Linked DNA regions of Homo sapiens: region 1 is linked to region 2. The links come from fine-mapping of genetic effects on gene expression. A gene starts in region 2. The other region holds a variant in brackets. All regions are shown on one strand. Distances are from middle to middle. Region 1 has its middle 10 kb from the start of KRT2. Region 2 holds the start of KRT72 (keratin 72).

The links. PIP is the estimated chance that this variant, and not a neighbour inherited with it, causes the effect.
Region 1: its variant is fine-mapped to the expression of KRT72 in whole blood (TOPMed, PIP above 0.99).

What each region holds. Positions count from the first base shown.
Region 1 is chr12:52,640,620-52,643,528 of GRCh38, reverse strand. No RefSeq gene overlaps it. Among named protein-coding and RNA genes, the nearest start is that of KRT2, 10 kb to the left of the region's middle. The variant T/C (reference allele first, on the strand shown) is at 1,501.
Region 2 is chr12:52,599,946-52,602,854 of GRCh38, reverse strand. KRT72 (keratin 72) reads left to right here and starts at 1,392. Exons shown (of 9, transcript NM_080747.3): 1 at 1,392-1,828. The coding sequence starts at 1,403.

The sequences.
Region 1 (2,909 bases), 41 kb before region 2:
GACCCAGGTATGAGGGTGCTGCAGGAACAGCTCTGAAGGCTGCAGGTGGCAAGGTGGCAAGACTCCAGGCTGAGCATTCTAAAGTGATCCGCTGATCAGAGAAGGTCCCTGAGAACCACCCAGGCCTCAGTCGTGGGGAGAGGTCTGTGGGGAGAGGGTGCAGGTTGGGAAGAAGTGGTGTGAGGAGCTGGCTGTTTTCGGGTATGTACATAGTGTAGACATGAACACAACCTTTAACAGGGACTTGGTCCCAGACATTTGAGGCTGGACAGGAGCTTTGGTAATCAGTGTATTTGAACTTTTCACTTAGGTGAGGAAAAAGGTAAGGCCCAGGGTGGACACAGAAACCAGGTCTCCCACTCCCAATTTATTCATTTTTTAAAAGGCTTTGGGAATAGCAATCCATTCTAATAACTTTCTGAGGGGAAAAGAGGTGAGGCAGGTAAGGTGGCAGATTTATTCCCAGGGGAGCCTTAATTCTATTTTTTTTTTTTTTGAGATGGAGTCTCACTCTGTTGCCCAGGCTGGAGTGCAGTGGCATGATCTCAGCTCACTGCAAACTCCGCCTCCCGGCTCAAGTGATTCTCATGCCTCAGCCTCCCGAGTAGCTGGGATTACAGACATGCACCACCATGCCTATCTAATTTTTGTATTTTTGGTAGAGACGGCGTTTTACCATGTTGCCCAGGCTGGTCTCGAATTCCTGACCTCAAGTGATCTGCCTGCCTCAGCCTTCCAAAGTGCTGGGATCACAGGCGTGAGCCACTGCACCCGGCCTTAATTCTTGAGACTTTCAGTGGTCTGAACCTCTAGCTCCTTCTATCGTTTCCAGTTCCCCATCCCTTCCCCACCTGAGACACAGCCCTTCTGGTTTCCAGATCATATATATGCTACTTTCTTGCTGGACTCCAGTAGTAAAATTAGCCTTGTACATTAACTCAGAGGGACCCAGGCCTGAGGCGTGACAGAAATCAAGCTCTAAGCAGGTATTGGAGAGAGGGGCTACCTCTGGAGAGGGACCCTCCTTTCCCTCCGAAGTGTAGAGTAGCCCAGAATCTGGGCCACACCCTCCCACCAGGGCCCTCTGCTGCTCCTCCACCAAATTTGGTAATTGACTTGTCAGGTCCTGGGCTTCAAAAAGGAGACAGGCACAGGCAGAAGGGTTTTACGAGCTCGATTTCCATAGGGAACTGGGTTAAACATTTCCGTTCTGATGATGTTGCAGAATATTTGGGACATCCTCCCTCTTGTGGTTCCCTCCCTTTCTCTGCCTGTGAGTTTTAGTATGAATTCAAATAAACCCTTTTTCTCTTCCTCACCAAATTCTTTCTTTCCTGTCATTTGAAAGGAAATTCCTTTGGACATTTCACCTCCTTCAGGACAGCTCACCTCCTCCAGGAAGCCCACCTAAATGGAACACTCCTGCCTCCTTTTCTTGCTGTGAAGTGGGGAAGGAGTGCCCTGGGAGTGAGGAGACTTCAATGCTGATCCTCATCTTTG[T/C]GGGAACTGTTGCGTGACACTGGGCAAGTCCTTTCTCCTCTCTTGGCTCAATTTCTGCCTCACTTTAAGGACTTTCAGTGGCCAAGATTGTTTCTACAGATCCTTCCAGCTCTGATGAAAAGAACCCTGTCTGTGCTACCGGGTCAGCCAGTGCTTACTCCTAAAGCCTTTCAGCCCAACAGGGGATTTGGGACACTGTCAGGATATCCAGAGAGACCCTTTGTGAATAGGTGTGAGCATGTGAAGCTCAAAGTGGTTTTCATTCTAGTTCAGTAAATGCCTGTTGGACAATGACTGTGGGCAAGGTTGTGCATGTGGCTACGTGGGCGTATCAAGACTTATAAGACAGTGCGTCCTGTCAGGGATTTATGGTCTAGTAGGGGAAGAATGAGAAATTTGCAAACAGCTATTAACATAAGGCAGAATGTAGTAGTGTGCATTAATTTCATTAAGCGGCCCTTACTAAAAATACATATTCTTTGTTCCAGCATCCCCTCCTTCTCCCTGAGTTTCCACTACAGAGGAGTCTAGAAATCTGCATTTTTAACAACCTCCTAGGTGATTCTGATGCTGGTGACACAAGGGCCATGGTTTGGAAAGCACTGATGGACATGCTAAGGGAGCGGGCTCTGGGGTGGGCTCAGTTGCTGGCACCTTGGAATTTAGTAGGCACTAAATGAAAAGTTGATGATCAGATAAAAGAATGTGTGACCCTGGGCAAGTTATTTAACAACTCTGAGCCTTTCTTTACTCATTTGTAAACAGGTAGCAACAACAGCTTCCTCAGAGGATTGCTGGAGGTTTACACACTGAAATCAATGATAAATGTTTATTCTGTAGGACCTGTGCCATCATAAGCATGCAGTACTGTAGGTTACATTATTATTATTATTGTAAGTTACAGGCAGTATTTTGGGACCGGAGAAGACCTCATGGATGAGATAACTTTATATCCAGGCACTGGCAGATAGGTGGGATTAATTAAAGAGTAATAACAATTCTGCACGAACTGTTTCAGAAGATGGAAGAAGAAACACCTTCCATCTTGTTTTATAAGGCCAGCATTAATGGAAGAAACTAAAGAACAAATCCCTCATGGATATATATATATATATATATATATATATATATATATATATTCAAAAATTATCAGCAAGATATGAGCAAATTCAATCTAGAAAGATATAAAAAGGATAATACATCATGACCATGTGTTTAAAAATATTGTTTAAAAATAGTGAGGTATATGTTTAAAATGTATCCCAGAAATAAAAAGCTTGCTCAACATTCAAAGAATTAATGTATTCACCATATTGACATAGAAGAAAAAAACATAAGACTGTATCAATAGATACAAAACATTTGACAAAATTCAACACCCTCCATGGTAAAAACAAACAAACAAACAA
Region 2 (2,909 bases):
ATTGGCCCAGTGGAGGCTATGTCAGCCAATTACCCCCAGGTACCATTTAACCAACCCATGAGGTCCCCAAGGGGAACCCAGCCTTCAGGGTATCACTGAAGGTGCAGTAACAAGCCTTGCCCTAAGCACTCTGCTGTTTCACAATCATCCTAAATGTCCCTTTGGCCAAGGCCTGGGCTGAGCACTGGGGGAGCAGAGGAGGGAAGGGTGAATCCAGGGGGCCCTGTCAATCTGATAGAGGAAATGGAACACACACCCAGGACTCTGGCAGCTTAAGAAATAAGAGCAATGAAATAATCCCACCTGCATGCCAGAGGAACAGGAGAGCTGTTGCTAAGAGAGGAGGAGACTTGAAGGCAGCTTAAGTTTGAGAAAAGGAAATCGGGTTAGGTGGAAGAAGGAGCCTCTGTAGCTTAAAGGGAATGAAGTTCTAGAATCTAGTTCTTGGTTTTAGATCTGAAGAGTCTTGACCTCTTCCTAATAACTGATCACATTTTGATGCTGAATCAGAAATGACTGGGTGGCAAATGACCTGAGCAGAGGTTTGCTGGATGGGATAAATAAGCCTCTTCTGCTATTAAAAGAAAACAAAAATGAAAACAACCGAAAGCCTTAGGAAACACCATCTGCTAAACCATGCCTGAGTCTTCCTGTACCACCTCCCCAGGCCTTCTTCCCTCCCTCCCAGATAGCATGGTCCCCATTCTTAGTCCAGAAATGCTTAGTGGAGAAATCTTTTCGCTCTGGTCCAAAGTCAACCCTCAACACTTGTGACCAGAGGTCTCTGTGTCCTGCCTTCTCCAACAGACTGAGAGGTCTCTGCAGACGGGGCCAAAATCTCCTCCTTCTGAACTTCCTTCTTGCACAAGGGACAGAGCTGTCCTCATCCAGAAGCCTGGGAGGCAGGAGGAGGACAGGCTAAGGATGATTTTCTGCGATAGTCTTGACTCTATTCATGGCCTTCTGAAGCAGAAGCAGCCTGGACTTCTGCTTCACACACCTCCGTCTCCCCAGACACACACCCAGAGGGTCAGCCCCACTGGAAGTTTCCAGGGGTGATCTTGGGAGTGATAACCCCAGTAATTGGAGGCCAGCAGGTGGAGATAAGGTCGCTAAGCCATGATAATGCAGGAGGTGAGCCAAGTAAATGCTGGGTTCTGGGTCACTTTACAGGGATTCATGGGGAGTTCACGGTGGAACAGACAAAAATCTCGGTGAGTGCATGGTAATTTCCTACATGAAGAACCCAAGAGGCCTCAAGGGATCTAAAAGGTGTTGTCGACATACAAATTAGGCTGACTCCAGCCAGCCAGGCTATTTAAGGGGCGAGCTGGGCCGAGAACGCAGCGGCTGTTTGCGCCCCTTCTGCCTCCCGCGCGGCCAGCACCGGTACTTGCGAGCCATGAGCCGCCAACTGACCCATTTCCCCCGCGGGGAGCGCCTGGGCTTCAGCGGTTGCTCCGCGGTCCTCTCTGGCGGGATCGGCAGCAGCTCCGCCTCATTCCGGGCCCGGGTCAAGGGCTCGGCCTCCTTTGGCAGCAAGAGCCTCTCCTGCCTTGGGGGCAGCCGAAGCCTGGCGCTCAGCGCTGCTGCACGGCGGGGCGGCGGCCGCCTGGGCGGCTTCGTGGGCACCGCCTTCGGCAGCGCCGGGCTGGGGCCCAAGTGTCCCTCCGTGTGCCCACCCGGGGGCATCCCTCAGGTCACCGTCAACAAGAGCCTCCTGGCCCCGCTCAACGTGGAGATGGACCCCGAGATCCAGAGGGTGCGCGCCCAGGAGCGGGAGCAGATCAAGGCGCTAAACAACAAGTTCGCCTCCTTCATCGACAAGGTGAGTCCTCGGGCATTGGCCTGTCCCTGCGTTGGGCGCATGTGCACAGTGGTGCTGGCTCTGCCACTGGCGAGCTGTGTGGGAGCGTGGGCGGGTCATAACCTCTCCGAGCCTCCCTTTTCCATTTGTAAAATGGGCACAATAATGGGTCTTACTCCAGTGGGTTGCGATGAGGCTTAATTGGGATGTTTACGAAGTGCTCAGAACAGTGCCTGGCACATACTTCCAATAAACAGGATGTATTAGCCCATTTTCATGCTGCTGATAAAGACATACCCGAGACTGGGAAAAAAAAAAAGAGGTTTCATTGGACTTACAGTTCTCCATGGCTGGGGAGGTCTCAGAATCATAACGGGAGGCCAAAGTCACGTCTTATATGGCGGCGGCCAGAGAAAAATGAGGCAGAAGCAAAAACGGAAACCCCTGATAAACGCATCAGATCTCGTGATACTTATTCACTATTAGGAGAATAGCAGGAGAAAGACCGGCCCCTATGATTCATTTACCTCCCCCCTGGGTCCCTCCCACAACACGTGGGAATTCTGGGAGACTTAATTCAAGTTGAGATTTGGGTGGGGACACAGCCAAAACGTATCAAGGACCTTCATTTCTTTCTTGCATGAGACAAGACTGTGAGAAGGGAGGGGTCAGGATGTCCAAGGAATGGGCACTTTGAGAGCTCCCAATATCAGAAGAGGAGATGGGACCCACATTCAGGGCAGGGCATTAGGAACAGAGGCCAAGAGACGTTGCAGGACATGGTGCTTGGTGCTTGAGGAGTGGGGTAAGTGTGTAGCCAGGAAGATGATAGAGGAGGTGAGAGAAAAGGGCCAGAAAACTGAAGGGTGAGGCTGAGGAGGCACTTGGAAAGAGTGCATGTAAAGTTACAGGTGTGTGCTGAGGGTGGGGCATCCAGAAATTGGGGTAATAGGGAAGTTGTCTCTGGAGCTTCTGAGGCAATGACCCCAGTGAGTGGAGAGGAGACAGGGAATGGACTTCTCTTGTCTCCACCTGGATGGAAGGTCTAGACGGTGAGTGATAAGGGGACAGCCTGATAACAATAGCTGACATTTATGGTGCC